Linked DNA regions of Homo sapiens: region 2 is linked to region 1. Evidence: fine-mapped expression QTL. A gene starts in region 1. The other region holds a variant in brackets. All regions are shown on one strand. Distances are between the middles of the regions.

Region 1 (14,517 bases):
TTCTCATAAATTTCAGAAAAGATTATTATTATTACTATTATTTTTTGAGATGGAGTTTCGCTCTTGTTGCCCAGACTGGAGTGCAATGGCGCGATCTCGGCTCACAGCAACCTCCGCCTCCTGGGTTCAAGCAATTCTCCTGCCTCAGCCTCCCGAGTAGCTGGGATTACAGGCATGCGCCACCACACTCGGCTAATTTTGTACTTTTAGTAGAGATGGGGTTTCTCCATATTGGTCAGGCTGGTCTCGAACTCTGCCCGCCTTGGCCTCCCAAAGTGCTGGGATTACAGGCATGAGCCACTGCGCTCAGCCCAGAAAAGATTATTTTAACCAAGATAATAGCTATTATGAGCCTTTGCTCTATAAAGGTACAGCTAAAATGCTTACTAGGGCCAGGCATGGTGGCTTACGCCTGCAATCCCAGCACTTTGGGAGGCCAAGATGCGAGGATTGCTTGAGCCCAGGAATTTGAGACCAGCCTGGGCAATATGGTGATACTCCTATCTCTACAAAAAAGAAAAAAAAAATATCAGGCATGGTGGTGCATGTCTGTAGTCCCAGCTACTTGGAAGGCTGAGGTGGGAGGATTGCTTGAACCTGGGAGGCTAAGGCTGCAGTAAGCCATAATCTTGCCACCGTCTTCCAGCCTAGGCAATATAGAGTAAGACCCTGTCTCAAAAAACAAAATAAAATAAAATGCTTACTAATTACTCAGTATTACATTCTTCTTTAGAAATACCATATTCAAACCTGAATCCTATTGTCTTTACCTATGTTGTAATTGGTATTTAACAACCTAGATTTCAAACTCACTGGGAAGATAAGACATTACTAAAATGTCTTGGTATTTCAGCTTTAGCATCATGTCATTGGGTAACAGCTTATCATCTTTTTTCTTTTTATTTTGAAAAATTCCAAACTTTCAGAGAAGTCAAAAGGATAGCAAAATGAATACCCTAAGCCCACCCTTCACGCTGATTCTTAATGACATTTTCTCCCACAATATTCTCTTTCCATATAAATTCATATTTTTTTGATCATTTGAAAGTAAACTGCAGACAGTATGAGATCTCACCCTTCAATATTTTAGCAAATATATTCTAAAAGCAAGAATAGTTTACTTGCTTTTTAAAATATTTTACTTAAAAATATTTTTTACAGGTATGCCTACCACCTACATTCTACCATTAACATCTTACTGTAATTGCTTTGTCACATTTCTATCCATTAATTCATCTTATTTTTAGTACATTTCCAAGTAAACTGAAGACATCAGAATACTTCCTGAATACATCAGCAAATAGGCTTATCACTACCTAGAATTCATGATGTTTTTTCCTTTTCATGTAAAATTTACATACAATGAAATGTACGTATATACTTCCTGAGTTTTGATAAATGAACATACGTAACTAAAACCCTTATCAAGATATAGAACATTACTCTAGAAAGTTCCTTCATATGAAAATATGGAATGCCTCATGAATTTATATGCCGTTCTTGTGCAGTAGTATTTATAGAAAAAAAAAAGGTTTAACAAGGCTTGTTTTCTCTAAAAAATTACCTGGTCACAATAGCTCTCTTTTTTAGTGTGCTGAAGGAGGCAGCTGAATTATACATAAAGTTGAGATGGTCATTTATAAGATTCACTAGAACAGGGTTCTGCAAACTGCAAATATGTCTGCCATCTGATTTTGTGAATGAAGTTTTACTGGAACACAGGTAAGCTCATTCATTTATGTATTGTCCATGGCTGGTTTTGCACTGCAACTATGGCAGAGTTAAGTAATTATGACAGACGAAATGGTTGGGAAAGCCGAAAATTCTTTTGGCTCTTTACAGTAAGTTTGCCCACCTCTGCTCTAGAAGATGATTTGGTATCTTTCACTGTTTCAGATAATTAATGAAATGAATAAACACACACCAATAGAATATAGAAACAAAATTTATGATCAAAGCTGAGACTAGTTACACTGAGGCCAATCTAACTGCCTTCTGAGAGTCAGCAGCTTTGTTTTACTAATCACAGTAATTGTGTGTGAGGCGTGGGGTAGATGTAATGAATAAAAAGTCCAATAAATTAAAAAGCACTTTAAGTTCTTTTTCTCTTAATGAGATAGAACACTACAAGAAACAAAGGTTCATTTAATAAATATATTGAATATGTAAAAATATAACCTAATTCCCTATTTTAGTCAGAGGAGAGATAAGAAGAAGAAAAAGAAGATGTAGTGGTTGGGGGTAGAAACAGGAGCACACAAAAAGAAAAAATCTACAGACAAAGTAGACTCTAGCAGTGTCTAGAACAAAAATAGATGCTCAATAAGTATAATGATCGAATGAGTATAAATTAAAGGGCCTTTCTCACTTATTCTGCAGGCTTTAAACTCAGTCATCATCTCTCATTAGTGTCCTTTGAAATGTAACTTGTCTGCAGAGTTCACTCACTTCCCTAAGAATGAGATGCAGACAGGGAAGGAGCTCTCCTCAGGGCTAGATAAAATCCAGAGGACTGTCTGGTCTGTGTTTAAAGGTTCTAAGTAGCTATTTATTTTGTTTCTCCTTCCAAAATATCTCATTCCTACAGAAGGTCACAGGAGACTGTAATCCTGTATACAATTATTGGCCAACATAAATCAGTTCAGAACACTGTAGAATATGTACAACTTCAGGACACTGTGGTCTCTTCTCTTGGGAATAATAAACATCTCCTAAATTACACAGAGACAATTTCTATCATGGGGTAAGGGGTTACTCTGTAAAAATGCACTAATGAAGAAAAGAAGATTTATTATCACACAGATTCAGTGTGCTCAATGGGAGGATACAAAATTAAGAGACGGAGGTGCATGTTTTTAAAGATATGTAAATATAGCAGTGGTTCTCCATCTTTAGAAGGACCTGTAGGGCCTGTTAAAACCAAGACTGCTGATGTCCAGCCCAAGTTTCTGATTTAGTAGGTCTGGGGTTGGGCTAGGGTTGCCAGAAAAAAAAAACAAAAAAACGGCAATGCCTAGTTGAATTTGAATTTCAGAGAAACTTTTTATGTTCCAAATTCTGCAATATTTTATTTTTATCTGCTAAATCTAGCAACCCTAGAATTTGCATTTCTAACAGATTTTGAAGAGATGCTGATGCTGCTGGTCTAGGGACCTTACTTTGAGAACCACTGAGATATAGGATATTACGTTATCACCAAAAAGGAAAAACTGGGGGAGGAGGGAAGCTGAGTAGATCAGGTAAGAGTTCCTGAAGGAAAGGACAAGGACATGGGATGGGTCTTTAAGGGTGCCTAGAAGCTAGCCAGAAGAATACTGAGAGGAAAGCTTTGAGCAAAGGGGCAGAAATGTCAGAAAATGCCTGACGTTTTAAGGAAATTACAAGAAGCTTAGTGTTGCTGGTGCATAAAGTTTAATGCAGGTGGTGGTAGATAAAACTAAAAGGACAGAGGCCAGAAAGTACTAGGACCTTATGTACCCTGTGAAAAAGCACTTAGGGGTTTACACTGTAAAACAGTCAGCTTACCCGATGGGGAGCAATTTAAAGGATTTTAAGCAGAGCAGGGACTTGATCAGATTTGCATTTTTAGAAAGATCATTTGGGTGGAGGATCAGAAGCATGATTATGTGTTCAAGAGTATTTGAAATACGGTTATTTATGGAAACCATTTTTAATATAATTCTGCACAGACACAGACTGCTGGAGGCTACACCAGAGAAGGGAAGGAAATAGAACAATACTCAATTCATTATGAAATTTATTTAAAGTCCCTGCTAACTTGGCTCTCACTGATGCCAGAAGGACAGCATTTAATTTTTAAAGATACCAAATAAAAATGCATGGTTACAAAACTTTGTAGTTGTCTAGAATACATTATTTTGAACATTTATTCTTAAGCCTCTTTGATAATGTGTAAAATTATTTAAAATAAGACTTAAAAACAGGTATTGACATTATAATAGCGTTCATGCTAATGAAAGAATTTCTGCAAAAAAAATTAAAAAAATTAAAAAGCAGCTTCCTATTTACTGCCTATTTCATTTCTTAAGCATGTTTATGCGCCTTTCTACTTGTCAGAAATAAAACCCATTACAATGAAGATGTCCAGACTTAAGGCTCAAAGGAGGCTAAGTGTTAGTCCAGAGCTGGAAATCCTGGAGGCCAGTCCTATTTTACCAGAGTGGACCTAACGGGCTTTAATTTTCTCAACTGTGAACTGAGTTAGAATAGATCATTTGCAAAGCAGCATTCTCCTTTACCAATTTCCAACATCAGCAAAGGACATCTTCACCTATTTTCAAACAATATTTAAGGACAAAAATGTGTTGTCCAGTGTGTATATAAAAGACATTAAAATATTCTTGGCTTAATCAAGGTCACTTATCTAAGATTCTACATGTCCTGAAAGACCAAGCGTCAAAAGGAATATTCCTTTCAGTGTTCTTTTTGAGTATATTTCGCTATGGTACCAACAGCTATATTAGCAAAAGACATAAAAGTGCTGCCTTGGAATGACACTTGTTTTCACTGCACATTCATAGTACAAAACCTGTGACCCATCAGTTTTGCGGCTGAAGGGAAAAGTTAATTTGTCCATATTTCATTTTTCCTTATTTAAAATAAGGAGATAATCGATAGGAACAAAAGCTAAAATATACAGTGGCCATGAAGCAGGCACCACTTAGAAACCTCTGTATTAACGTTAGGAGCCAAGTTTTATTACCCAAAAGGGCAGGCTGGCTGAGGAGTGGAGGCTGGATGCATCGTCTCAGCAAATGACTACTGCAAAGCTGCCACGCTTGCACAAACTCAGGGATGTTTATTTATTAGCTTGTTTCCTCAAAATGAGTTTAGGTCATCAGCAGAGATTAAAGCAGGCCTCTACACCACTCTATGAAATCCTGATTCCCACGGCGCATTCTGGGACAGTGAGTGTCCACGAAGACCATACCTGTAATCGCAAAGCTTGGGTTGACAGCCACACTGCTGCTTGCAAACCATACAGTAACTGCACAGGGGCACGTTGCCCCGGATCCAGTGGTGGGGCATGGCGTCCAGGACCTTGGTGTCATTCTTGAGCATAATCTCCTTGCACTGGAAGCGCTTGTCGGCCTTCCTGAGGCAGCCCTCGTCCACGCGGAGCCCGCAGCAGTCGCAGAAGGCGCCCTGCAGAATGTGCTGCGCGCACACGCAGCAGTAGGTGGGCTGGCTGAACAGGTCCGTGTCGCGCCACCCGTGCTTGCTCTTGCGGAAGATGTCCCTGCGGTGCAGCTGCCGGCGCGACCGCTGGAGGCTACACCAGAAGGTGATGAACACCGGCAGCAGGACCGAGCACAGCGTCCACAAGATCAGGTGCCCGTCCGCAAACAGGCCCTCGGAGGGCGAGCCCGGCGCCGGCCGCCTCTCCGCTTCCATCTTCTCCAAGGACGATACCTAACCAGAAAAGAAACAGGCGGTGCACCCCGAGCTCGCCATCCCTTCCCCGCCCCCTTCCTGCCTTTCCGGGGCCAAACCGGGCGCCCTCAGTGAAGGTGGCTCCGCTCTCCCGAGGGCGGGACTGCGCCTCGTCCCCCCGTCTCCCGGGACCTGCCGCGCCGAGAAGGCGACGTCCAGCCATCACGCTCCAATCCCCACTCCCCAACCCGCCCCACCTCGGGAGCGCGTCCAGGAGCCCAAGGCGGCTGCTGCTGCCGCCGCCGCCTCACCTTGCCGCCGGTCTGACCCACGGAAGGGCGCAACATACAGGGGCAAGCTGCCCTCCACCGAAAGGCCGGGCGTTCAGGCCAGGCAACGCCGGTCGGCGCCCGTAACCGTCGGCCCAGGCCTCGCACTCCCCTCCGGGGCGCCGTCTCCTCCCGGGCCCCACCCGCTCCCACGCGCGGCCCGGCGACCCTAGCCCCTCTCGGGAGGCCTCCGGAGACCTGCGCCGCGCCGGTCCTCGAAGCCCTACCTCGCGCGGGTGGAGGCGCGGCTCCGGGCCAGCAGGCCTTGGCCGCCTCGCGCAGGAGGAGAACGACGCTGGGCCGCCAGCAGGGATGAAGCCGGGCGGGGGAAACGCTTAAGGCTCCAGCCGCACGCACGCCGATCCGGCGCGCGGGGCCGCGAGCTGGAGGCGGGGCCTGTGGCGGCGAGCCCCGTGGCTGGGCGGAGCCAGGGCTGACGGGCGGGGCGGAGGTGTGAGGTGGGAGGGGAGACGGACCGGCCTGAGGGGGCGGGGCCGTGGAGGAGGCTGGAGACGGATGGAAGAGGCAGGGCACTGCGGCTGGGGGCGGGGCCTAGGGGAAGGGGGCGGAGTAACAGTGGGGCGTTTGAGAGGATGGAGGGTTGAATGCCAAAACTTCGTAATCGTAGAAAATTCTGGAAAGCCGCCGGCGGGGCAAGGCCACGAGGATCCTCCTCGCAGCACCGCGCCGCGCGGGGCCCAGGGGCCGCGCTCACGCCCGCCGCTCGGCGCAGACACGAGTGCCCCCGACTTGAGCCGAACCTCTAGCCGATGCCGGCGCCGCCGCCGCCGGGGATGCGTAAGCCGACTGGGAAGCGAGGGGGGGAGGCGGCCTGCGCGGCACCGCCCGACCTGGCCGCGGCGGGCTGAGGTAGGTGTGGCGGCCGCAGTAACGCAAACCTGAGGGCTCCTCCGCTGCGGAGCGGCGGGCGGGCGCGGAGGCCGAGGGCGAGCGGGGCAGCCGCCCGCTCGTCGCCGCTGACCCCGAGCCCGGCCGCGGTTTCCGCCCCCTGCCGTGGCGGGCGGGCCTCCCCTGCGCTACCCCCTCGCCCGCGCCCGCCAGCGCCCGAGGCCGGGGAGAAAGGGGAGCAGCGGGAGCCGGGGACTACCGGAGATGGGAGCACGCCTCCTGCTGCTGTCGTCCAGCCCCAGGTTCCGGAGGAATGCTCGCTCCCCGCTGGAGTCCTACCAGCCCAACACGGACCTGAGCCGCGACCACGCGGGCTGCAGCCTGCAGCACATCAGCTACCCGGAGAACGCGGACGCGGAAGCACCGCTGCTCAGCACCCCCGAAGAAACACGGAATCCAGAGAGGCACAGGCACCGCCCCGGCGCGCACAGCTGCACTCAGCGGCTTCCTTCCTACTACATACATACATAGGAGTGGGAGCCGAGGACCACTTGTTGCTTGCGGACTTCCTCTAGCATAAAAGATGGAAAGAAAACACACACCGAAGCAAGGGACCAAAGGAACAGAAAAGAAACGCAGAGATCATAGGAAAACTGCAAAGAAATACTTGATAATATCTTCCAAACGATTAGAGAAGACATAACATTCATTAAGAATACACATATAGATGTATATATACGTGTATGTGTGTATGTATATATTATTATGTGTGCATATATATGCATGTGTATGTGCGTATATTTGTATTAACTGTAGAAGATAAAGCTAGACACTAGTAAAAGTGGTAAAGCAGATTTTAATAATATACTATTGTAATAGGGAAGAAGGTACCTCGTGAACGGAACTGAACTTTGTGCAGAAGTGACTAGGTGTTTAAGAGGGAGGAGGAGGGAATGTGAAGGGGATGAGCAGGAACTCAGTAGTCAGGAAAGTGAAACTTGTGAAGGGTGGGTCAGTGTAAGTAAGGTTAGGCGACAGTGCCTGTTAGATGGCTGTTATGGGAGTCAGGGTCCTATCCTCCCACAGTAACTGGGAGATAGGCCCTTTGCTTCCTGGTGATTGCATGTTGGAGGAATGGCTTTCAGGTTCTTGAGAAGGATACTCCTGATGTGTAGGAGACATTACATCCCAGAGAGACAGAGGAAGGATTCACAATTGTTTAGTTTTTTGTTGTTGTTGTTAACTCTTTAAGAAAGGGACATCAGGGGCTGCTTGTAAGGTGTTGGCAATAGCCAACAGTGAGTTCTTTTGGCAGCTTTCCCAGGAAGATACTTTAGGGGGTCTGGGGTCATCCTATGGATGCAGCTTTGAGCAGTTAAAAACTATGTGTTTAGGCCGGGCGCTGTGGCTCACGCCTGTAACCCCAACACTTTGGGAGGCCGAGGCAGGTGCATCACGGGGTCAGGAATTCAAGATCAGCCTGGTCAAGATGGTGAAACCCCGTCTCTACTAAAAATACAAAAAATTAGCTGGGCATCGTGGTGAGTGCCTGTAGTCCCAGCTACTTGGGAGGCTTGAGGCAGAGAATTGCTTAACCCAGGAGGCGGAGGTTGCAGTGAGCTGAGATCGCACCAATGTATTCCAGCCGGGGCGACAGAGCGAAACTCCGTCTCAAAAAAAAAGAAAGAAAAAGAAACTGTGTGTTTAAGCGTTTTGATATAGGGGGAAGGATGGACCCGATCCTTTTTGCTGAAGTCTGCAGATTTCATAGGCCAAGGTGGAGGCCTAGTTGAAAAGGGGGCTCAGGGAAGCCTGGCTAGAGCTTGGTCAAGGAGGGGATCTTCATCAGTCGTACGTATGTACATGGCACGTGGACCTGCATAGACACGTGTTTGGTGGAGGCTGTCTTATACGGATTCTGCACAACTCAAGTCCCCTAATGGGAACAGACTTGGGGAGGTCACTCTTGAGGCTTTTTGTGGTATTGTGGCTACTGGGAGACCTGAGGAGGGTTCTGGTCACTAGCAGACTCATTTCATTCACCCCTTGGAATCTGCCCAGGACTTGGACTTCTGTGTAATAGTAACTTCACGCCCCAATGATCCTCCACGTTCCTTGCTGATGCTGTGATTGCTCCTCCAAGTTCTCCACCTATGTCCATCTGAGCACTTGGTATTTCTACTCTAGTGTCAAAAGGTCCTGTTCCCAAGTCTCCTCCCAAACATTTATTCCAATTTATCATCCAGATGCCCGTCCTTTGCCATCCCTCTCTGTTCCAGCAAAGGACACCACCCCTCAGGGAGATGCTCACAGTGGACTCCTTGTCCTCATCCTGACTCCCCTTTTCTCTGGCACCCGCAGGCCTCAGTGAGTCTCTCGGTCTCTGGCAGCAGCACAGGTCCTGGACTCGAGCCCATCTCTCCATCCCCCCCTCCACTACTCCCCTGGTCCAGCTGTCACCATTCTCACCCTTGAATGACTGTCACAGCCTCCCACCTGGTCTTCCTGCTTTACTATGTTCCCTGCAGGCTGCCTCTGAACTTTTATATTGAAATGAAACTCTTACTGTGGGGAAAACCCCTCCATTCTCAGACCCCTGGTACCCTTCACTCATTTACCACTCTGGCCATCGTTCACTGAGTTCAGGCCACTCTGGCCTCTGCATGGTCCTCACGCCCACCAGACTCATGCCCCCTTCAGGGCTATTGTCAGTTCTACCCCCTTTTCCTACAAAGTTCTTCCCTATGTCTTCGTTGCCCAGGTGCTCCCTCCCGACAGAGGCCTTGCTGACCACCCCTACCAAGATTGCCCCACATTTATGTAAATCCAGTCTGTTTAACTATTAGGGTGAGTGACCTCCATTCATACTTGATAAATAATTTACAGTTATCTAAATACAGTGCCTGACTCAACATAAAGACACAGAGGAAGTTTAAATGGAAAGTTTAATTCAGGTTACTTTTGTCAGGTATCTCTCTTACATACCAAAATAAAAATGTATAAATACAAAAAAAAAATTAGCCAGGCGTGGTGGCTAATTGAGAGGAGATGGGGAAAAGTGATGTGGGGTTCCCCAATGTTGTCCAAGGGGATTTCTTCTTAGAAATCTCTCCCTACATCACTCTTGTAGTGAAATAAAACCATCTCCATGTAATTTATTAATTTTGTTTTTTGAAAAATATCCACTATTTGAATCTAAATATTATAGAAATTTCTCTTTAAACATTCCCTTTTACTTTATCCCAAAATAAATCTCCCTTTGCATAAATTTTTTCTTTTTCTTTTTTTTTTTTTGAGACGGAGTCTCGCTCTGTCACCCAGACTGGAGTGCAGTGGTGCGATCTTGGCTCACTGCAAGCTCCGCCTCCCAGGTTCACGCCATTCTCTTGCCTCAGCCTCCCGAGTAGCTGGGACTACAGGTGCCCGCCACCACGCCCGGCTAATTTTTTTTGTGTTTTTAGTGGAGACGGGATTTCACCATGTTAGCGAGGATGGTCCTGATCTCCTGACCTCATGATCCGCCTGCCTCAGCCTCCCAAAGTGCTGGGATTACAGGTGTGAGCCACCACGCCCGGCCAAATTTTTCAACAAATACATACTCAAGCCAAAAAATGGTGCTTTAACTTATGACTTAAAATTGTTGGGACTATAACTCTAGAAAAAATATTGCAGTTGAGTACCGAAAGTATTGATAAATGAAATCTGTTTTCAAAGTGCAATAATTTTGTAGAGGATAAAATAGAAATTGTTCACCTAGGAGATTAATACATAAATAATATTTACAGAGCATTGTCTTGAGAAATGCAGTTTGATGATGTTTCAGTTTGAGCAAAAGATGAGGCTCTAAAGTATGGCATTTCTTTTGCTGCTAATGAGAGAGAATCCAGACTTTGCTGATGTGCTCCAGGGTCTCCTGTATTCTTTAGATTTGGAGGAATCAACCATGAAGGAGCTGGCTGCAGTGTCAGAAGGGGAAGGTGGAAACTTCAACACAAAAAGGGGCTCCCCTAGATCCACTGGCCTCAGGGACCCTCGGATGGAGTCAACATGGGAGAACCTGGCCTGGCAGCTCTGGAGGCCTGAGTGGAGGGGAGAGAACAGCGCTGCCCTAAGACCCAAGCCCTCCTGGGGAAGGGAGCAGCAGGGCTTGGCTCTTGGCTGCCTGGCTGGTGTGGAAAAGCTCCTTGTGATGGGGTGACTCCCATGGCCTCTTCCAGGGACTCCAGCATAGATAACGTCTCTGCCAGCCCTTCTTGTTGCTTAGAGAGTCTGGATCTCTCTTCTTTTTTCTTTTCTTCTTTAAACCTCTCTTCTTTGAGTTCTTGAACCAGGGATGTGATTTTTATTTTATTTTATTTTTTTGCAATGGAGTCTTGCTCTTGTTGCCCAGGCTGGAGTGTAATGGTGCGATCTCAGCTCACTGCAATCTCCACCTCCCAGGTTCAAGCAATTCTCCTGCTCCAGCCTGCTGAGTAGCTGGGATTACAGGCGCCCGCCACCATGCCTGGCTAATTTTTGTATTGTTAGTAGAGATGGGTTTCACTGCTGGCCAGGCTGGTCTTGAACTCCTGACTCAGGTGATCTGTCCACCTCGGCCTCCCAAAGTGTTGAAATTACAGGTGTGAGCAGCTGTGCCCCGCTGGGATGTGAATTTCTGCATCAGCATTGCGTTGGTGCTGTTCACCTTATAAGCATCTACAAAACTGGGGATGTTTAAATACTTTTTCATACACCGACATCCTCTAAGGATCCCTCAATCTCTGCAGTGTTTTTTTTTTTTTTTTTGTCATCACTGTGCTTGCCTGTGAGTTGGCATTTCTCCTCCATGTGTGAATCCAGTGTTTCTGCAAGCTGCTTTTCGTATGTTACATGGAGTCGATTCCTAACAGGTTGACTAAGGAAATGAAAGCCACGAAAGTTAGGATAGTAGTTCCCTGTGATGGGGGAGAAGGTGTACCAAACAACTGGGCACACCAGAGCTCCCAATCTTCAATATGTTAACCTGGGTAGTGGGTACACAGGTGTTTGTTTAATTTTTATGTTAGAAACTATGTATATATGGTTTATAAACTCTTCTGTATGTGTGACAGATTTCAAAATATAAACAACATCAAAAAAGTTTTGAATAAAGAATTACCTAGGGAACTTGTTAAGAAGGCGGATTCCTAGTTGCATTTCATATTCTGATTCCAGAGACCTGGTCAGGACCACAGAATCCACATTTTTTTTTTTGAGACAAGAGTTTTGCTCTTGTTGCCCAGGCTGGAGTGCAATGGTGTGATCCCGGCTCACCACAACCTCCGCCTCCTGGGTTCAAGCGATTCTCCTACCTCAGCCTCCCGAGTAGCTGGGATTACACGCATGCGCCACCACGTCCAGCTAATTTTGTATTTTTAGCAGAGATGGGATTTCTCCATGTTGGTCAGGCTGGTCTAGAACTCCCAACCTCAGATGATCCACCCACCCTGTCCTCCCAAAGTGCTGGGATTACAAGCGTGAGCCGCCGTGCCTGGCTTTTTTTTTTTTTTTTTGAGACTGAGTCTTGTTCTGTCGCCAGGCTGGAGTGCGGGTACACTGAGCTAATTTTTGTATTTTTAGTAGAGATGGGGTTTCACCATATTGGCTGGGATGATCTCGAACTCCTGATCTCGCGATCCGCCTGCCTTGGCCTCCCAAAGTGCTGGGATTACAGGTGTGAGCCACTGCGACCGGCCCAGCATCCACATTTTTAAATGATGCTAATGGAGGCGGTTCGAAAACCACAGTCTGAGGTGTGTTAAATACTCCATGCCCACGTTACACGGAGTCCATTCCTAATACATTGACTAAGTCTGAATAAAACTAAGACCCATCACTAAGCCCGTGAGGTGTGGACACACCAGTGTCTTCCCATGGAGGCTGTGGAAAGTGACTTGAGGACTTGGGTCATGGGGCGGCAGCCCCACCATCTCCTCATCCAGCTTCCCAGGGTTCAGTCCAGGGTCCACCTCCACAGAGGATCGCAGCCCCTCCATGACACTGCAGTCCCACACGGCCAATAGTGGGACTGAGATCACTGTTTTAACTTGGTCAATCAAGTCAGCTTCAACTGAAATTAAACCATTAAAGATACTCTGCTACTTCTCTGAGAACCTTGCCCTGGGAATCTTGTTAAAATGCAGATTCTGATTTCCTTTCTCAGGGAAGAGGCCTGATAACCTGCATTTCTAAGAAGCTCCAAGGTGCTGCCACAGGGCTCTGCCTAGTAACCATGGATTCCACAGCCACAACAGACACCAGAGAACACCCCACCATTCTGCCTGTACTCAATCAGCAGTGGGCATCCTGGATTGGTTAATTTTATGATCACTTAGAGGGAGAAATTTGTAAATAAAATCTACTTGTCTCAAAAAAAATTCTGGTAGGAATGATTTACAGTATGAGTTAAGCTTATCTATGACCTTCAGCCTCCGCACTTTCTCACCATCTGGTGAGAGCTGGCACAGTTTTGAATGTTGGGATGCAGAAAACTGGCAGTTTTGAGAATGTTATATACTAAAGAATGGGACAGTTCAAGTCAAAAATTGATAAATGATAACCTATGCTCTTGTTGGTTATTTATTAAACACGTACTGGCTGAGCACTTAACTATGTGCCAAGCATTGCACAGCTTGTGCAGAGCGCCAGGCCTGTCAAAACATAACCAACAAGAAGCATTATTTACAGGCACTGTTTACAGGTACTGCACCCTGCTTCCATCTCTGCACTTGCTATGCACCATGTAGGTTTATGATCCCCATTTTACAGATGAAAAAACCCAGGCACAGAGAGGTTGAGAAACATGCTTCATGTCACACAGCCAATGGTGGGACTGAGATCACTGTTTTAACTTGGTCAACTAAGTCAGCTTCAACTGAAATTAAACCATTAAAGAAAGACTTTCTCTTATTCTGCTACTTCTCTGAGAACCTTGCCCTGGGAATCTTGTTAAAATGCAGATTCTGATTTCCTTTCTCAGGGAAGAGGCCTGATAACCTGCGTTTCTAAGAAGCTCCAAGGTGCTGCTGCTAGTTCCAGGACCACACTTTTGAGTTTGGAGGCTGAAGTATTTAACAGTCTGTATTGTGAAAACGCAGGGGCAGTGTAATGAAGTGGGAGGAGTGTTAGATGGGATTGTGAGGCCTGGGAAGAGAACCTGGACCTCAGACATCTGTGTCCCCTTGTGCTTGTCAGTTCACCTCCTTGGGCTCAGGTTAGATGAGATCTCTAAAGCATAACTTCTGCTTCAGTAGCCTGCACAGTGTGTGAAAGTGTCATTGTCTTTTATGAATCCTAGCTGATGCAGAACGCTTAAATTAGTTTAGATTTGAAGATATAACAAAATAATACACTTTTAAAAAGTGACAGACTGGGCATGGTGGCTCACACCTGTAATCCCAGCACTTTGGGAGACTAAGGCAGGTGGATCCCTTGAGGCCAGGAGTTGAAGACAAGCCTGGCCAACATGGTGAAACCCCATCTCTACTAAAAATAAAAAATTAGCTGGGTGTGGTGGTGCGTGCCTGTAATCCCAGCTACTCGGGAGCCTGAGGCAGGAGAATCACATGAGTTCAGGAGGTGGAGGTTGCAGTGAGCCGAGATTGTGCCACTGCACTCCAGCCTGGGTGACAGAGCGAGACTCCGTCACACACACGCGTGCACACACACACACACACTCACAGGTTTCCCCCAATCCCCATTATAGAGTATTTGAAAAAGTAAAAAGGAAGAAAAGAATCACCATCTCTCACTCCAAAGACACCCTGTGTTTGAACATTTTGGTCTATTCCATTATTTTCTATGGAAACTGATTTACTTTTTTTTAATGCATACTTTTGATGATGTGGTAGATAATAGTGTCTATCTGGCTCTTATTTAGCATTACAAAATAACTTTTATATGTTATTAAAAAGTCCTATTTAATGGC
Region 2 (16,907 bases), 65 kb after region 1:
AGAACCTTGTTGAGGTCGAAAAGCCATAGGTCCTTTGCTGCTGCTTTGTTTTGCTGAAATTCTTCCCATGTGATCTTGTTGGAACAAGGACCTTTCTTGGGTGCTCCTCTCTGTCCTTTAGCCCATTATAGTACTTCCTAGGTAGCCTTTGGGGCAAGGCGAAAATTCCTGAAAAAAGCAAGTTTGTAAGGGCATCTTCTCTCAATTGATGTCCTGTCTGACTTGGTGTGTGTGTGTGTGTGTGTGTGTGTGTGTGTGTGTATATATATATATATAGTGTATTATACATATTTGTATATATGTTATGTATACTAATATAATAAATAATATATTAATATATATAATTTATTTAAGTAAATTAATATAACATGTAGTATTATATATAATAATATATAATATAATATTATATATATATAAAAATGGAGACAGAGTCTCACTCTATTGCTTAGGCTGAAGTGCAGTGGCAGGATGATAGCTCACTGCAGGCTTGAACTCCTGGGCTCAAGTGACACACCTGCCTCAGCCTCCCGAGTAGCTAGGACTACAGGTGCATGCCACCATGCCTGGCTAATTTTTAAATTTCTTTGTAGAGATAGGGAGCTCAATATGTTGCCCAGGTTAGTCTTGAACCCGTGGGCTCAAGGGGTCCTCCTGCCTCAGACTCCCGAGTGGCTGAGATTACAGGCGTGAGCCACCTCGCCCTGTCTGGATTAGGTATTAATTAGTGGGAAGAGCTGCTTTGGAAGGAGGAGTGCCCCTAAATTTAAATGGATGACCGAGCCTTCATCCTCTCACCTTTACACTCTCTCTGATTCCAACTTCCCAAATGTGTGTGAGGTGCTCTGCTGATGGCAGGGAGATAATGTTAAGTAGCAAACAGACATGGCATTAAATTACATTAAATCACAGAGTGATGAACTTACTTCATTTTTAATCCTGCTCTGAAAAGGAGAAAATTCCAGGATTTTTTAATGCTTACTTATCTCTCCTTTTTAACAAACAGTGAGCAGGCCCCTGGGGCCAGACGGAACCTCAGCCAGCACTGCTACCTAGTGATAGTTGTTTTATTTTCATCAATTTTTTATTTTTCCTTCACTTTATGGCAAGCGACGCTAGTTTGCTTTTACAATTGTAGTGCTGTTCACTGCATATTCCAGCCCCCTACTTTGTGGGGCTGTCTGTTGCCTCAGCTAACCTGGTCTATCCTGACTATGGCAGTAGTGATGTAATATATTCTTCTGAAGTAAATGTATTTGAGTAATTTTACAGTTCCCTACACAGCTATGGCAAAATATATGGTGGTGGTAACATAAGCAGCAAAGTTTGGGAAAATGATGGACTAGATGATATAATTTTTTACCTAATTAGGATGATCAACCATCCTGGTTTTTCTGGAATTATGTTCCTGGGATATGAAACTTTCATTTTAGAACTAGGAAAGTCCCAGGCAAACCAGGATGAGCTGGTCAACCTGGTCTTAAGTGGGTATCTTCACTAGTCAGTCTTAATTCAAGTGGGGTGGCTGGGTGTACCCCTCGGAGTCTACAGGGGCACTGGATGACATGAGGGAGTCAGTGGACATTTGCTAGGCCTCCCCTACCCAATCTGGTTGACTTTTCTCATCTGACAGATGAGGAAACCTAAATGGAGTAAAGTGACTGATTGGTTCAAGATTGCACAGATGGTAAGTGGCAGAATGAGGAATAGAACCACATCTCTTGACTGTTAGTTTCAGTTAGTTTTCTTCCCCGTGGGGGAGGTAGGCCTCTTTGCTCAACTCTGTCCTGCCCTTCACAGCCTCTGTTTGCTTTCAGGTGCATCTATAATAATGTTAAGACAAATAACAATTAGATGATATTAATTAAATTGAAACACTGTCCTAAGAGCTTTATGTATATTAGTCATTGATTTCCACAGTCATCCTCTGAGGTAGGTACTATTATTAACCCCTTTTTAGCCATAAGGAAACTGATCTATCAAGAGGTTAAGTCACTTGCCCAAGGTCATCCAGCTGGTGAGTGTCAGAGGCAAGTTTTAGAGCCAAGGCTGTCTAATTTAAGAGTCCGTGTGCTTAACCACCAAGCTTCCCCACCCTCTGTGCTTGTGGTGTGTTTCTATGAACGCTGCTGTTCTGTGGCAGCTCCCGGAAGGCCATGTCCACATTTATTTTGTGGGTGGTAGTGGAAAGGGTTCCGGTTTATGTATCACAAGACTGGGGTTGAATTCTGGCTCCAGCATTCACTTAATGTGCCTGGATCTTACTTGTGGGTAAAATAGGAAAATAATAATAATAAACAATATTATATCTATTTTTCTTTTCTTTGCTGTGTTTTCATAAGGATGACATGAGTAAGTGTATGTGAAGGGACTTTGTGAACAGCCAAATAACAACAGATATCAGTTAGTTTTTGTAAAACAGACAGTAGCATAACGAGATGCTTGTTAAAGGCATGATAATGATGTGTAAAGCCCACTGTGAAGAGGCGATGAATTGGCTAATCATAAAGGCTCTGATTAAAAGTCTAAATGGCAGAGACATAAATAGAAAGTACTCAATAACACTGTGGAATGGACAAATGAATGACGAGAGTTGGAAATAAGAACCATGACCTGGTCAAAAAAGACAAAGTGAAAAAGTGAAAAACAAAAACAAAAAGCCCTTGAAGCCTTGGTATTATATTGTTACTAGGTCCATTCACTTTACAGGTAAGGAAACCCAGGCATAGAGCGCCCAAGAGACTTGCACAGATCATACCTCTGCTCCCGGCTCTGTCCTCACCAGCTGCTGACACTGGACGTGGCTGTGAGCTCTTTGATCCTCATTTTCCTCCTCTGGCATCCAGGGTGGTGAGGAATAGATGATATATTTCACCTAACACTGAAATATGTCTTGAATATAACACTGAATATAACTTGAGCACATCAAGTGCTCAGCATAGTGCCTGGGAATAGTCGATATTAGCTATTATGATTACTGATGGAAGGGCCTGGGTTAAGGTGAACCAATAGTTACTACCTGGAAGATATTGATTTGTATTTCTCCATCTCTGCAGAGATGCTGAAAAAAGTTGCCACGAGAGGCTGTGAAATCTTCCTCTGGGTTCAAAACCTCTCTGATCCTTCCTGGAGGCAGAAGGATGCCTTCAAGATGCCTTGCAGTCTCTCTTTGACTCCAGCCCATCCTCTGGGTTTGAACCTGTCTTTTAGCCAATCCTTTCACATCTTCAACCTTTAGTAAAGAGGCTACCCAATAAAAAAAATTATCTGCTGCTCCCTTCAGCAATGAAATGCTTGGTGCTAACAAAGTGTCTTTCAGATGACCAGAGACACAGATCGCCCACAGGCTGTGCTTCTGGGAGCAATAGCAGGCTGTCTTGCTCCTCCCCCTCTCCCGCCACCCCCAGCATATTATCTATGGGGACTGGAAAACATTATCAAAACAGGCCCCATCTGTTCCTGAAGTTGTGGAAGAGTACTTGTGAGATAAATTTACAGGGTCACTGGAAGACCCTCTAATTTTCTGGGAAATGACAAGGCATCTGTGGCCACGTTGTGTAAAATTTCCTCTTTTATACCCAAGTTACATGCCACGGACTATTTACTTGGAGTCTGAGGATATATTTACCATTCAGGCAACATCACAAGCTGTCAAAGAAATCTACTCAGAGTAGGATGTGTTGGGTGTCTCGCCTTTCTAAAAATGACACTCGCCCCCTGCTTTTTAATTTTTTTTAATAAATCTTTTTAGGCGCTGTGTTCACAGTGCAAATAGCTCAGAAAGGACACTGGAGTCAAAGTTTAAGTCAGGGCAGAAGTGTTGCATGGAAAGAGGACTCAATCCGGCGGCTTTGCCAAGACAGGAAGCAGGCTGTATGTTGGATTTGCTCTACGATGTTCAACCAATGTATGCAGATGATGGGGGTGATGATATATTGATCCGCTGAGTAAGCACCTCCGGTGTTTGAAGGCTCTGTGTCATTCAGAGCAAACAATGGACAGCTACATAGTATAGAGAAGTTGCCTCCAAAGTCAATAGCTGAAGGAATGCTTTGGGGAGATATTAGAGACCATGTTTTTCCAAATTTAGAACCCGCTCACATTTCGTGGGTTCTGACATTAATATTGAGCTTGAACATCAAGTTCTGGCAAAATAAAATTTCCTGATTCAAAACAAGAAGCTGTCTAAGGGATCCTGCGAGGGTGTCTTGGAAGTCTAGGGTCTCTTACAAAACAGCCTATTTGAGGATTCAAAGGTGAATGAACCAGGACCAGACTGATTCCATTTCCCTTGTAGTGCATGTGGCTTGTACAATTAGCAGCAGCTGGGTGGGAGTGGGGATGTGAAGGGGAGGAAAGGACTCTGGAAAAAGTGCATGTGAGATTTTGCTGACCAAAGACATTTGAAAATGAGTATGAATTCTCTGACCAGGTCTCGTGAATCTTGCGGACCTAGTTTTTGGTCTGATACATACCCAAGAAAAGTTGTTAGAAAACAGAGTGGGCATTAGGCCACCTCCCCGGGGACACAAGGACGGCCACTCTGGGCTCTGACTGTCTGTCTTTATCACAAAACCTTAATCTCCAGGACTGGTCTGGTTCCATACCTACTCCTTGGAAGGGGAAATGACTGCTGCCTTGTAATGATTTTGGCCTTGAGCTGGAGGCTCCCACAGCCTTGAGGTTAGGGTTGAGTGACCCCATATGCCAGCCCCTACAGTCTTCCTAAGATTCTCAAATCAAGCCACTTCTAGGCTTAGGAGCTCTCAGTAGCAGTTCTGCTGCTGTAGCTTAGAGTCCAGAGTCCCGAGCATGGACTGCCCCACCTTTTATGGGCAACCCCCTCCTGCCTCCCTCTCCAGTGTTGTCTGCTGCTGCTCCCCGTACTGTATCCTCTAGTCCTATTGAACCACTTTTGTCCCCATTGCAAAGCACAGTAAACTTTCTGATGTCTTTGTCCTTGTTATTTGTTGTGCTTGAAATATCCTCTTCATCACTCCTCTCTTTATCTAAGAATCTTTCCCAGAAGCCACTCTCGAAGCCCAAGACTAGTTTAGTTTGGCTTTTCTCTGCCACCTCTGTGTGTGCATCCTGAACTTACCTCTGTTGTAGAGCTCTCTGTTCTCTGTATTGTAGCAGTCTATTTACATGTGTCATGAGTTGGAGCGCATTATATTTACCAGATTCGAGGGACAGCTGACTGTCCTGGGGCAGGGGCAGTATGTCATATTAGGGAGTGAGGACTAGATTACACTTCGAGGAGTCTGTGCAGCAGGGAGGGTTCCATGTCAATAGCTTGGGCTTTGGGGAACTGGACAATTATTGGTGGGAAAGCAGCAAGATGGTGGAAGGCTGTAGCATGTAGAACATAATCCTTTATAGTAGCTTCTCAGATCTACAGTCAAATCACTAAACCCACAACATCACTGCTGGATTTGTATTTCTTGTGGAAAAATGGTAAAGGGGCTTAGAACTGTGTCCCAGCTGCCTCAAGACCATCCTGGGATGACACCTATAGACACAGGAATGGAGACAGGATCAAGAAGAAGAAAGTGGAATTTCCATAAGTTGTGAGAAGGGAGTCTGGATTCATACAGGTTATGAAATTGGGGATTCAAGCTATGGGTGATATTTGTTTGTCCTGTGAGCTCTGTTGTGGGGAGGAAGTGTAGCTTATTCATTGATGGATCTCCAGTGCCTCACATAGTGCCTGGCATATAGCATATGAGACTAAGTGAATAATTGTTGAATGAATGGAAAGATGGATGGGTGGGTGAGTGGAAATATGGATGGATGGATGAAGGGATAGAGGGATGGAAAGATGATTGGATGGATGGGTGGATGTATGCATGTATGGGTGGATAGATGGATTGAAGGGTAGATGGATAGGTGAATGAATAGATGAATGGGTGGGTAGGTGGGTGGATGAATAGATAGATGGATGGATGGATAGATGGATGATGGATAGATGAATGAATGGAAGGATGGATGAATAGATGGATGAAAGGGTGGATGGATGAGTGTATGAATAGATGGATGATGGATAGATGGATGGAGGAAAGATGGATGGATGGATAGATGAGTGGAAGGGGGATGGGTCTATAGGTGAAAGGGTAGATGGAAAAATGAATAGGTGATAGGTGGATGGGTGGATGGAAAGGTGGATGGATGGCAGGATGTATAACTGTTCCAAAGATGCAGAAAAATTAGTCATGATTTCCCTGTGCCTCAGCTGCCTTTCCTCATCCCGCTGCCTTCCTCAGCTGGCTTACTTGTAGTCCCCCTTCATAACACAGCATCTGAGGCAGAGAGAGGGCCAGGAACAAAGGCTTGGAGGCCAGAAGGAGCAAGGCCCAGCTGGGAAATGGCAAGAAGGTGTATGTTGTAAAGCACATTTTGAAGGAGCGGGCAGAGTTGGGCAGTGCAGCTGGAAAATTTTAATCAGGGGTCAGACCAGGAAAGGACTCTGTGCATCAGTCTAAGCCTTTAGGCTTTGTCCTAAAGCAGTGGGAATTGTTGAAAGGTTTCACACGGGGCAGCATCCTGAACATTTCCCTTCAATTTCTTTGTCTATATCACCTTTTAAACAGATGCTTCAAACTGCCCTTCCAGGAACACTGCAACTCAGGCACAAACCAGGGCAGTCCTGTTTCAGCAGGAAGTCAGAAGTCCTGGGTTTATTTTGAGGCCTCACTCTTTCAGTGAGCTGAGTGACACTGACAGAGTCACTCTACCATGTGCCTTGGTTTTCTCATCTGTAAAGTGAATGAAATAGAACTTACTCAGGGCTGGCTTTATGTATGCACAACTCGTGCAGCGACACTGGATCCCTTGCCCACAACAGTCCTGCACTTAGTTTAATGCTCTGCTGTCATTGTCTTGAAATTCTTATTAATTGGACAAAGAGCTCCACATTTCATTTTGAACTTGGCTCCGCAAACTATGTAGCCAGTGCTGAATTCACCTCATATCCACAACATTAACAGGGATATTGTGGGGGTAAAATAAGATCCAGTATGTGAAAGGTCTTTAAAGATGATAGAACATGAAACAAAAATTAGGCCTTGTTGATACTTCTCTTATTGATATTTCCCAAGGTGACATAATCATTCTAAGTTTGCTGGTTCTCCTGCATGTCAGGTGATGGGTCCCAGACATAATTAAACTCAGTCATTGTCCTCATGAAACTCTAGTTGTTCAATAAAAGGTAGAATTGAAACTTGAACCTATGTCTTTAATACTCAAGTCCAGTGCTCTTTCCTCTATAGTTAACAGTTGCTAATATGTCTATCTGCTCCACTATTCTGTAAGAGACTTTGTGGCTGGGGAAAATTCTCTATCCTCATGTGTCTTGAACAGTCTTTTGTACGTACAAAGCACCCAGTAAATGTTTGTTGAATGAATTAATACATTTGAGAGACTGGCAAAATTATATTCCAAGCATCCTGCTTAAATCTCCTTTAATGCTTCTTACTATTCTCAGAATAAAACTCAAACTCCCTATCTTGGCACAAGGATCTTAGTGGTCCAGCCTCTGCTCAGTTATTCACACCCACCGTGCGCCTGCCATCCCAGGGTCTTAAGACATGCCATTCCTTCTGCCTGGAACACTGTCCTTTGCTTCTCATCCATTGCCTGGCTACCCCCAGCTCATCATGTAACATCCCAAGCTTTACTTTCTCAGGGAGACCTAATGCTGCCTGTGCTGATCTCCCTGACCAAGTCACTGAAATCCTGATGGTCTCTCAAAGTACTGCAAATCCCCCTCTCCTAGTACTTGTTGATGACAATTTTGCACTTTTTTTTAAATGTGGCTATGTGGATAGTTGCCTGCCTCTGCATTTGTAGGGCTACATTTGTGTTTGTTCTCTGAGATATTTCTGGTGATCAGTGCAAGCGCCTTTCACAGAACGAGTGCTCAATAAATATTTGGCGAGTGCATGAAGAAGAGTAAAGTGTTTGCAGTGTTTGTGCATGGATGTTTTCTCCAGCATGATGAGGGAAGTTCCTTTAGGCCTGGAACTATATAATAATCATATAACAATGACCCTGTAACGGGGCTTTTCATATGCACCTGATATTGTGCTAAGTCTTCCCGATGCACCATCTCATACCCGCCCCACAGTACATCTATGGGGTGGGACTGTGATCTCACTTCACAGATGGTGAGATTGAA[G/A]CTCACAGAGATTAAATGATGTCTCCAAGGTCATAGATGTAATAAGGGGCAGTGTGAACTTGAGGTTAGCTCTGGCTAACACTGAAGTCTGGGTTCTTCATTCTTCTCTTTTACCACCTTCTGCTGCTGTTGCTTTTTTTCCAAACTTGACTCCTCCATGAGGGGCCACGCTGGTCTCCGGGGGTCACTAAATGTGCAGGAATCAGCTGGAGGGTCTGTGCTGCACACACGTGAGCCTTGACACATGTGACAGATATGAACAGTGGAGTGACACTACACAGGAGTGTCCACAGGCACAGGGACCTGTCCTGGCTCTGCTCCCGATTGTTGGGTCACCCTGAGAGAGTCACACTTTCTCTGTGAGCTTCAGATTTTCCAAGTGTAAATCTGGGAATTGAATCCAGTGACCTCTAAATTTCTAGCTGGCACTAATTCTGGGTTAAGTTCCAGCTGGATCTATATGATTCTTTCCAACTCTGCCCCTTCCCTATGCCCTAGCCACCCTGTCCTTCTTCTGTTCCTTGAACATGCCAAGCTCCTTTTTGCTCCGTGGCCTTGGCGCCTGGCAGGTTCTCTGTCTGGAGCTTCTTCCCCTGACTTCAGGAGCCAGGCTGGCTCCTGGACATGCAGGAGGTGTCAGCGTACGTGTCACAGAGAGGCCTTTCCCACCCACCTGAGCTAATATTGGATCCCACTCCAGTCACTCTCTATTACCTGAGCCTGGTTTGTTCTCTTCATAGCACTCAACACCATTTAAAATTATTTGATACATACATAAATTTAATCATTTTTCTATTGATAAATATAAGCATTCTTCTATCTATGTATCTCTATTATATATCATTGTTCATTGTTTATGGGTGTCCTGTCACTAGGATGTGAGGCCCATAGGAGCAGGGCAGTGGGCGGGAAATGTCTTATTCCTTGCTGTATTTTTAGCTCTTGGGAAGAGTGCAATGAGTATTTACTGAAGGCATTGAATAATTGAATGAATGAATGAATGAATAGTTCTGTGCTCTCCAAAGCACCAAGGATAGGGACATAACAGGGAGGGAAGATCAGGTAAGATCAGGGCCACTGGTGCCACCATCAGAAGCCCAGCTCCAACCCCTTATCTCACTTCCTGAAGCAATGCAAGGGCCCAATAAATATTCATTAAATACGTGGACTCATCTAACCAAGTAGGCTGTGGCATCTGCTCTGTGTGGCAATTGTGCTTACAAGCCCATTGAGAATTATCCTGGAGGAGGATCACAAATCCCAACAGCCCAGATGAAAGGGCTCCATCCTACCCCATCCTCCCACCCTTTCTCTCTTCTTCAAACCAGTGAATATCAGTGTCCAGCTGCCGGAGGCCAGCCTGCTTGCATCTGACTGGGTCACCCAGGGAGTTTGTATTCAAATTTTGGGAGCATTTCCAAAACTCTCAGACATTCTTCTGATACAAAATCTATAGCTCCCCAGGACTCTGAGGGTTTGGATCTGATTATTTTAAAAAAATGTTCCACAACAGGAAGAAAATGCACTTTCTGCCCCAACCTTTCCTGCCAAGCCCCCAACCTCTCACCTTCTACCTCCCACCTCCCATCATCCAGATTGACCATTTGATACTTTAGAGCTGCCCAGGGGCCGGAGAGAAATGGATTTTATTTTACGTCCCACAGCTGTTGCAATGCTGGAGAAACCCCACGTATTTAAAATATTAAAATGGTTTCCAGCCTGACAACATTTCTTATTTAGTGTTTGAAGATTTGGAGCCTGCTACCCAGTTGACCCATCTCTGGAAAGTAAAAGAAGAAAGTAAAAAATGAAGGCTTAATCCTACTCCTGTTGCCCCCAAGGACATTAGAGCAATTTAGGCAGAGTTTAATATTTGCTGCCCCTGCTGGTTTTCTGGACCCAATGATCTACCCAGAAAGGGGGAAACCTCAGTTCTCAGGCTGGAAAGTGCCTCCTGGGGTGAGATGGAGTGGCCTGAGAATTCATCAAACCTCTCTGCCAGCCTCTGGGCTGGCCCTCAATCCACTGCCTCCCCTCCCCACCACCAAAAAAAAAAAAAAAAAAAAAAAATCTAAAAACTTTGAAAGAAGGCAATTTCACAGTCTCTCTAGGAGTCCGCTTTCATGGTCCAATAAGCCCTTACAGTCAGGAAGTCATTTCTTGGTCTGACCTAAGGCTCTTATGCTGCATTAAACCGTGTTGATCTTAAAGAGTCTGGGTTTCCTGGATGGCACCTATCTTAGGCTTTCCCGGGGCCCATGAAGGCAAATGAGCTCCCTTTAAAGGCACATTTTAGAGGAAATCTGTCTTCTCCTGTCTGATGGCTGGAGCGTTCCTGCTGCTGGAGCCTTTGATGATTTCCTTGCCCGCCAAGGATGCCTGCCCCACAGCAGGGAGGCCGCCCCGAGTTCCGCAGTGCCCTGGGGTTGGTCTCTTTGGCGAGGTTTAGATGAGGCTCTCTGTGCTCTATTCCAATCCGTAACCTTCCTTGGGGGCCAGTGCTGAGAATGCTCTTTATTTTGTTCTTTAATTGTTTTACTAACCTACTGGCTCCATCTCATTCTTCATGCCACTCTTTAGGATACCCCAGCTGGAGAGGGATCTCTAATGGAGACCCTGCCTCCAGGCTACACTCAACCACATTGTCTAGACTGAAGGCACTTTCCCTTATTCTAACCACTCTGACCACCACTGGTTATCCTTTTTCAGTTCTGAATGAAACTTCTAGACCTGAAAGCCCTCACACTGCGGTGGACAGAAAACAGATATTTGTGAATGGAGAGATTAATGAATGAACGGGGTAGTGCATTACCGTGTACTTGACTAGACATGCTGGCATTTTGGGTTTTCAGTTGCTTCCCTGTTTAGCAGTGGGTTTTCTGCTTCGCACTAGCTGAGATCACAAAGCACATTTAGTAAGTAGAGAAAATGCCAGTAATCCAGGACAGGGGAGACCCAGCTGGAAATCCGGGAAAGAGTTTGACCAAATTTTGGCTTCAGCACTCAGCCACGGGCCAGGCAGAACACAGGCTGAGGAGACAAAACTGCCCCTTGTATTGGTGACATCAGCTCCTAGGTGGTTTTACAACTTTACCTCTTGGATCCAGTAAACTCTCCTGTCTTCCTTCCTCTGATCCCCCACCTCCACTTCAAGCCCAACAGAGTCAAATTAAGGAGGATAGTGTCATACTCAAGGTAGCTCCGAACTAAGTTCACTTCTCTGAAATTCCTAACAAAGGATATGCCATAAATATGATGTCTGCATCTCCCCGTCCTCCTCTGACAAAGCAGCCCCCAGAATTTTGAAGCCTGGCTTCTAGAACAAAATGTAATAATATAAACTACTGGACTGGAGGGGTTGGCACTGTTTTACAAAGGCCCCGAATAGGCAGTGAGTTTGGGAATGGGTTGTCCCAGGAACCAAATCTCATTCCATATGGTGAAAGAAAATTTTAACACAAGAAGCTTCTCTTTTTTAACTTTTCTTCTTTTCTTTCTTCTTTTTGTTTTTTTTGAGACTGGATCTCATTTTGTTGCCCAGGCTTGAGTGCAGTGATCCTGGCTCACTGCAGCTTCAACCTCCTGGGCTCAAGCTATCCTCCTGCCTCAGCCTCCCCAGTAGCTGGGATTAAAGGCACACACCACCACACCCAGCTAATTTTAAATTTTTTGTAGAGACAGGGTCTTCCTATGTTGCCCAGGCTGGTCTCAAAGTCCTGGGCTCAAGTGGTCCTGCCACCTCTGCCTCCCAAAGTGGTGGGATCACAGATGTGAGCCACGCCCAGCCTCTTTCGAACATTTTCTATTACTAGTGTCATAACTCTCCTTTTCTGGCATCCTGCCCCTCCAGGCTGGAAGAGACATTATAGCCTCTTGCTCGTGGGCCAGAGTGGTTGACTATTCCCTAAACCTGATGTAGGAGTACCGAGGATCTTGGCTCCCTAACACACTCAAAAAACAAATCTCTGCATCAGCCCTCAGCCATCAGACCAAGTAATATCCCCAAGTCGTTAGAGTACAAATGATAAAACCTGCAAATTAACAAGTCATGAAACTGAAATAATACATCTTCTTCCTTGCTCTCTAGTTAACTAAGCTAAATAATTTTATGATTCTCCTCAGCTTTTTGCAGCTTGAAAAACAAAATAAAATACATTTTGGTAAATCTTGAGTTTTTCTCTCTTGGAAGATGCTTTGAATGCTTTTTCTTTTTCCCTCATCCCAAGTTCCAATCTCCCCCACAAAATAGAATGCTGCCTTTAGGATATAAAGCCTTAGCTTGAGGTTCTCATGAACTCTGAAAGGCCCTTCTTTTTTTATTTTTATTTATTTATTTTTGTGTGTGAGATGGAGTCTCGCTCTGTTGCCCAGGCTAGAGTGCAGTGGTGCGATCTCGGCTCACTGCATGCTCCGCCTCTGGGGTTCACGCCATTCTCCTGCCTCAGCCTCCTGAGTAGCTGGGACTGCAAGGCAGCCAACTCCATGCCTGGCTAATTTTTTGTATTTTTAGTAGAGATGGGATTCACTGTGTTAGCCAGGATAGTCTCAATCTCCTGACCTCGTGCTCTGCCTGCCTCGGCCTCCCAAAGTGTTGGGATTACAGGCGTGAGCCCCTGTGCCCGGCAAGGCCCTTCTTTTTAATCCCAAGGTAATTATTGAGCTCACAGGCCTGTGGGACGTTGTCTTCACTGTAGGAAGTTTTCTGCATCTGAATTTTATCTTGCTTACTGTACTTGATGGTCCTTAGGAAAAAAGGTGCCTCAATTAACAAACTAGAATGCATATTTTAATTGTGCATCTCATTATGTTTTCCTTTGGCCACAAGGAAACCCTCAGTAAAACTTTTTGCTCAATTGCACTAGCTTTCCTTAAAGTTTTTGATTCTGACATCCGCTAGGATGCAGCTCCTGTTAAGGTGCAAGTGTCCAGTGTACCCTTTCAGCTAGACAAAGGAACTCATAGAAAAATTAAGAGTGTGAGTCTACAGACAAAGAGAAGCATGTCTCCAAGAAATTGTGAATTTTGTGCTTTTGGTGCCTGGAGTTGAATGGAATCTAATGCACAGAAAACCCACAAAATTTTTGAGAGAGTTTACTGTCAAAACTACCACCAGGCTTGTCTAAAACAAAATGAAACTGTTGGAGATAAAAACAAATTTCTGGGGCCCCACCTTCTTATAGACAGGAAGCAGACTAAGAGTATGGTCATTGTCATATTCTCCGATGTGCTCTTTTGAAGTGATCAAGGCTGATGGGAAGAGAAAACCTCTCACAGGGCAGAGCCAAGAACCCAGAGAAGAAAGGACTGAGTGTGGAACAGGGGGCCAGGCAAGGAAAATTCTCAACTCCTGGATTAGGAGGACCTGGCCAAAAATTCCCAGCAGAACATCAGAATTGCTGCAGCCCAGTGAGTGCTGAGTGACTCTCATTCCTTTTCTTTCCAAGTAGCAGTGTTTTTCTGATTCTACACCTGTTCCACCGCACCTGGATACATATGGAAAACAACTTGTCTTTTTGATTTTTTGGGTCCTTATCAAATCAAGAGAAGCCTCAGTGAGATCTGGCATGGAACATGGATTTCCAGTTCAATACCAGCATTGGATAAGATTTTTGGAGTGTCCTAGGGATGCAGTGAGTGTATTTTGCGTGTGGGAAAGGAGTGAATATTTGTGACCAAAAGGGCAAACAGTGGCCATTGTCTGTAGATATTCACTCCTTCCCCTTCAACCTATCTCCAGGGGGCACGCACACTTCCCTGCCCTTGACTTTGGGCCTTGCCATTTTACTTGTTTTTGCAAATGAGATGTTAATGGAGGTGACATGAGCAGGAGTTGAAATGTGCTTGTGCTGTAGGGCTTGCTGTCTTGCATTTCTGCCATTGCCACGAGAAAAACACGATATAAGCCCAGTAGGATGAAAGGTATTTGGAACAAAGCTGCCCCAGGTGACCTGTAGACCTGTGGCCGGAAGCCAAGCCACCCCATGTGACCCTCAGGCACAGGAGCGAGAAATACCTCCTGCTGTACGGCACTGTGATGTTTGTGGTTGTTTGTTACACAGTAGTGGCTGACTGAGACAACCTACAATAGCAACCAGGAGCCCCATGGTTTCCTTAAAGACAGGACTTACAAAAGTAAATGGCAAACAATTTGGGAGTGGGCTGATACCAACAGAAAGGAGAAATGATCATAGACTTTGGGATGAACTGACAAAGTTCTCATGACTGCCTGGAAAACTCAGCATACCTAGTGGGTCCTGGAAAAGGTGGGAGGCTATACATACAGAAGCAAGTGTATCTCAAAGTCTCCCGTGCCAGTCAAAGAAAAAGAATAAAGAGTCGGTTGAGGTTGTGGGTGAGGTGAATGGGTTTATAGACTGAGGTTGCCCAGGAATTCGCAGTGTACATATACAGTGTACATACTTACTGTTTGATATATTTATTATACAGTAATTTTCTGATAATTAAACTTCTTAATATAACTTTGTGGTAAGAGTGCTTTTCCCACATTCCAGAGATTACCAGGAGTCTGACTTTTAAAAAATCGTGTTGTATTGTATGTATTTTTAGAAAGAGGTAGAGTAAAAATAAATAGATTAACTAGGACTGCTGGAAAAGGGGGTTGGGTGGGAAAGAAAAATGCCATTCAGAAATAGACCATGAAACTAATTACCTGGATAAGCCAATGTAAAAAAAAAATATTGTTTCAGACAGGTCATAAACTCAAATGCCTTAGGGGACTGGCAGGTGACACAAACAAGTGAGGTAGGCATGGTGGGGAGTGTGGTGATGTGGGAGTGTGCGCCCTGTCCCAGAAGGGCAGCTATGACTGGGCTCCCTCTAATTGTTGCTATGTGGGAGTGGCATCTAGCGTTGCCAGCTCTTCTGAGGAAGCAGGGCTGCCATGTTTGCTTCTGCAGATTGTACACTGCACAAGAGTGCTCAGCTGAGAGGGTAGCTGGAGCCTAAAATTCAGTACAAGCTCCATGTACCAAGCCCTGGGCCAGGACACAGGACTCGAAGAGCAGAAGTAGGCTGGGTTTCAGCCCCTATGTATCCTCTTTAGCCTACCTTTGTGTAATACACAGTCACACAGGGTGGCCTGGGATGGAGGATCTTGCTTCCCATTGTGGAAGGTGAATAAGAAATACCTCTTTATCTTTGCTCCTGACAGCTCAGACACAGGTGCCCTTTCTAGGCTCAGCCAATAGATGCTCCTTTCTAAGGCCTGGAACCTTGTGTGAGTGACAAAAGCACAGAGGTGGAGAGATTACATGGGGTGGCATCCACTGTGTTTAGGTATGTCTGAATGGTGACACATAGAGCACTTCTGAGAACACTGAGCTACTATTGAACAAAACTCTCAGGCATGCTGATTGACCTAGTGGGTCTCCAGCTAGCCATCTCTGGATTAAGACATTCCAGGTCCAGGAAGGTGTATGAGGGTACTCACTTGTTCCCAATAACCTTTGCACATGCATAAGTTTCTCTCTCCTTCCTTCCTTCCTTCTTCCTTCCTCCCCTCCCTCCTCCTCCTTTTCTGTTTCTCTTTCTCTTTCTTTTCTCTTTTCTTTTCTTTCCTTCTTTCCTTCCTTCCTTCCTTCCTTCCTTCCTTCCTTCCTTCCTTCCTTCCTTCCTTCCCTTCTCTTCTCTTCTCCTTGTCCTTCTTCGACAGGGTCTTTCTCTGTCACCCAGGCTGGAGTGCAGTGTCACTATTGAAGCTCATTGCAACCTCAACCTCCCAGACCCAAATGACCCTCCCACCTCAGCCTCCCAATTAGCTGGGACCACAGGTGTGCCCCACCATGCCTGACTAGTTTTTTATATTTTTTGTAAAGATGGAGTCTCCTATTTGCCCAGGCAGGTCTCATGCTCCTAAGCTCAAGTGATCCTCCTGCTTTGGCCTCCCAAAGTGCTGGGATTACAGGCACGAGCCACCACGCTTGACCCTGAGATGTCCTTTCTTGGCATCACAGTGCAGGGCAGTGACAAGCTTCCTGTCTCAGAAGGTTTGGATTTGGTTCCAGTTCTACTAGAGCTTGGTCTCAGAGCTTCCCAGCTCTGTGATTTTGATCATGTTTGCATCATGCTGACTCTTAATTTCCTTGTCTATAAAATGGAAATTTGGATGCTGGTACTCCTTGCCTCTCAGGGATATTGGAAGACTCAAATCCAATAAGATAATGCATGAGAAAGCATGTTGCAAGCCTAACAAACTATGTAAACGTAAGGTATTATTATACTGCTGCAGAGACATGAGAATTCATGTTGCTGATGCTTGAACCAGAGATGGTGGGAATCTAGCATGGAGCAGGCCCATCTAATTATTTTCAAAATGCTGAAAAAGGCTTTTCCAATTCTTTGCCTTCCCTGGTTACCCATCCTGTCTGCTGCTGTAAATTTTCACTTTCCCCTAACAATAAACATTTATATTGTGCCTTACCATTATTTTATTTGACCCTCACAACATTCCTATGGGATAAGGGTTATTCCCCTTTGCTGATGAGGAAACTGAGGCTCAGGGAATTCTGGGAGATACAATTCAAGTTGAGATTTGGGTAAGAACACAGCCAAACCACATCATTCTGCCCCTGCACCCTCCAAATCTCATGTCCTTACTTTTTTTTTTTTTTTTTTGAGACAGAGTCTCACTCTGTCACCCAGCCTGGAGTGCAGTGGCGCGATCTCGGCTCACTGCAAGCTCCACCTCCCGGGTTCACGCTACTATCCCGCTTCA

Evidence for each region.
Region 2: its variant is fine-mapped to the expression of C17orf67 in whole blood (INTERVAL, PIP above 0.99).

What each region holds. Positions count from the first base shown.
Region 1 is chr17:56,825,694-56,840,210 of GRCh38, reverse strand. It overlaps C17orf67 (chromosome 17 open reading frame 67), which reads left to right and starts at 6,291. Exons shown (of 8, transcript NM_001085430.4): 1 at 6,291-6,593; 2 at 6,869-7,313. DGKE (diacylglycerol kinase epsilon) reads right to left here and starts at 6,060. Exons shown (of 12, transcript NM_003647.3): 1 at 5,951-6,060; 2 at 4,952-5,433. The coding sequence starts at 5,415. It overlaps LOC124904036 (a long non-coding RNA gene), which reads left to right. Exons shown (of 3, transcript XR_007065857.1): 3 at 1,591-3,851. RefSeq lists enhancers at 2,161-2,716, 4,607-5,204, 4,936-5,335, 5,804-6,401 and silencers at 5,726-6,795, 6,769-7,063.
Region 2 is chr17:56,759,664-56,776,570 of GRCh38, reverse strand. No RefSeq gene overlaps it. Among named protein-coding and RNA genes, the nearest start is that of C17orf67, 66 kb to the left of the region's middle. The variant G/A (reference allele first, on the strand shown) is at 8,174.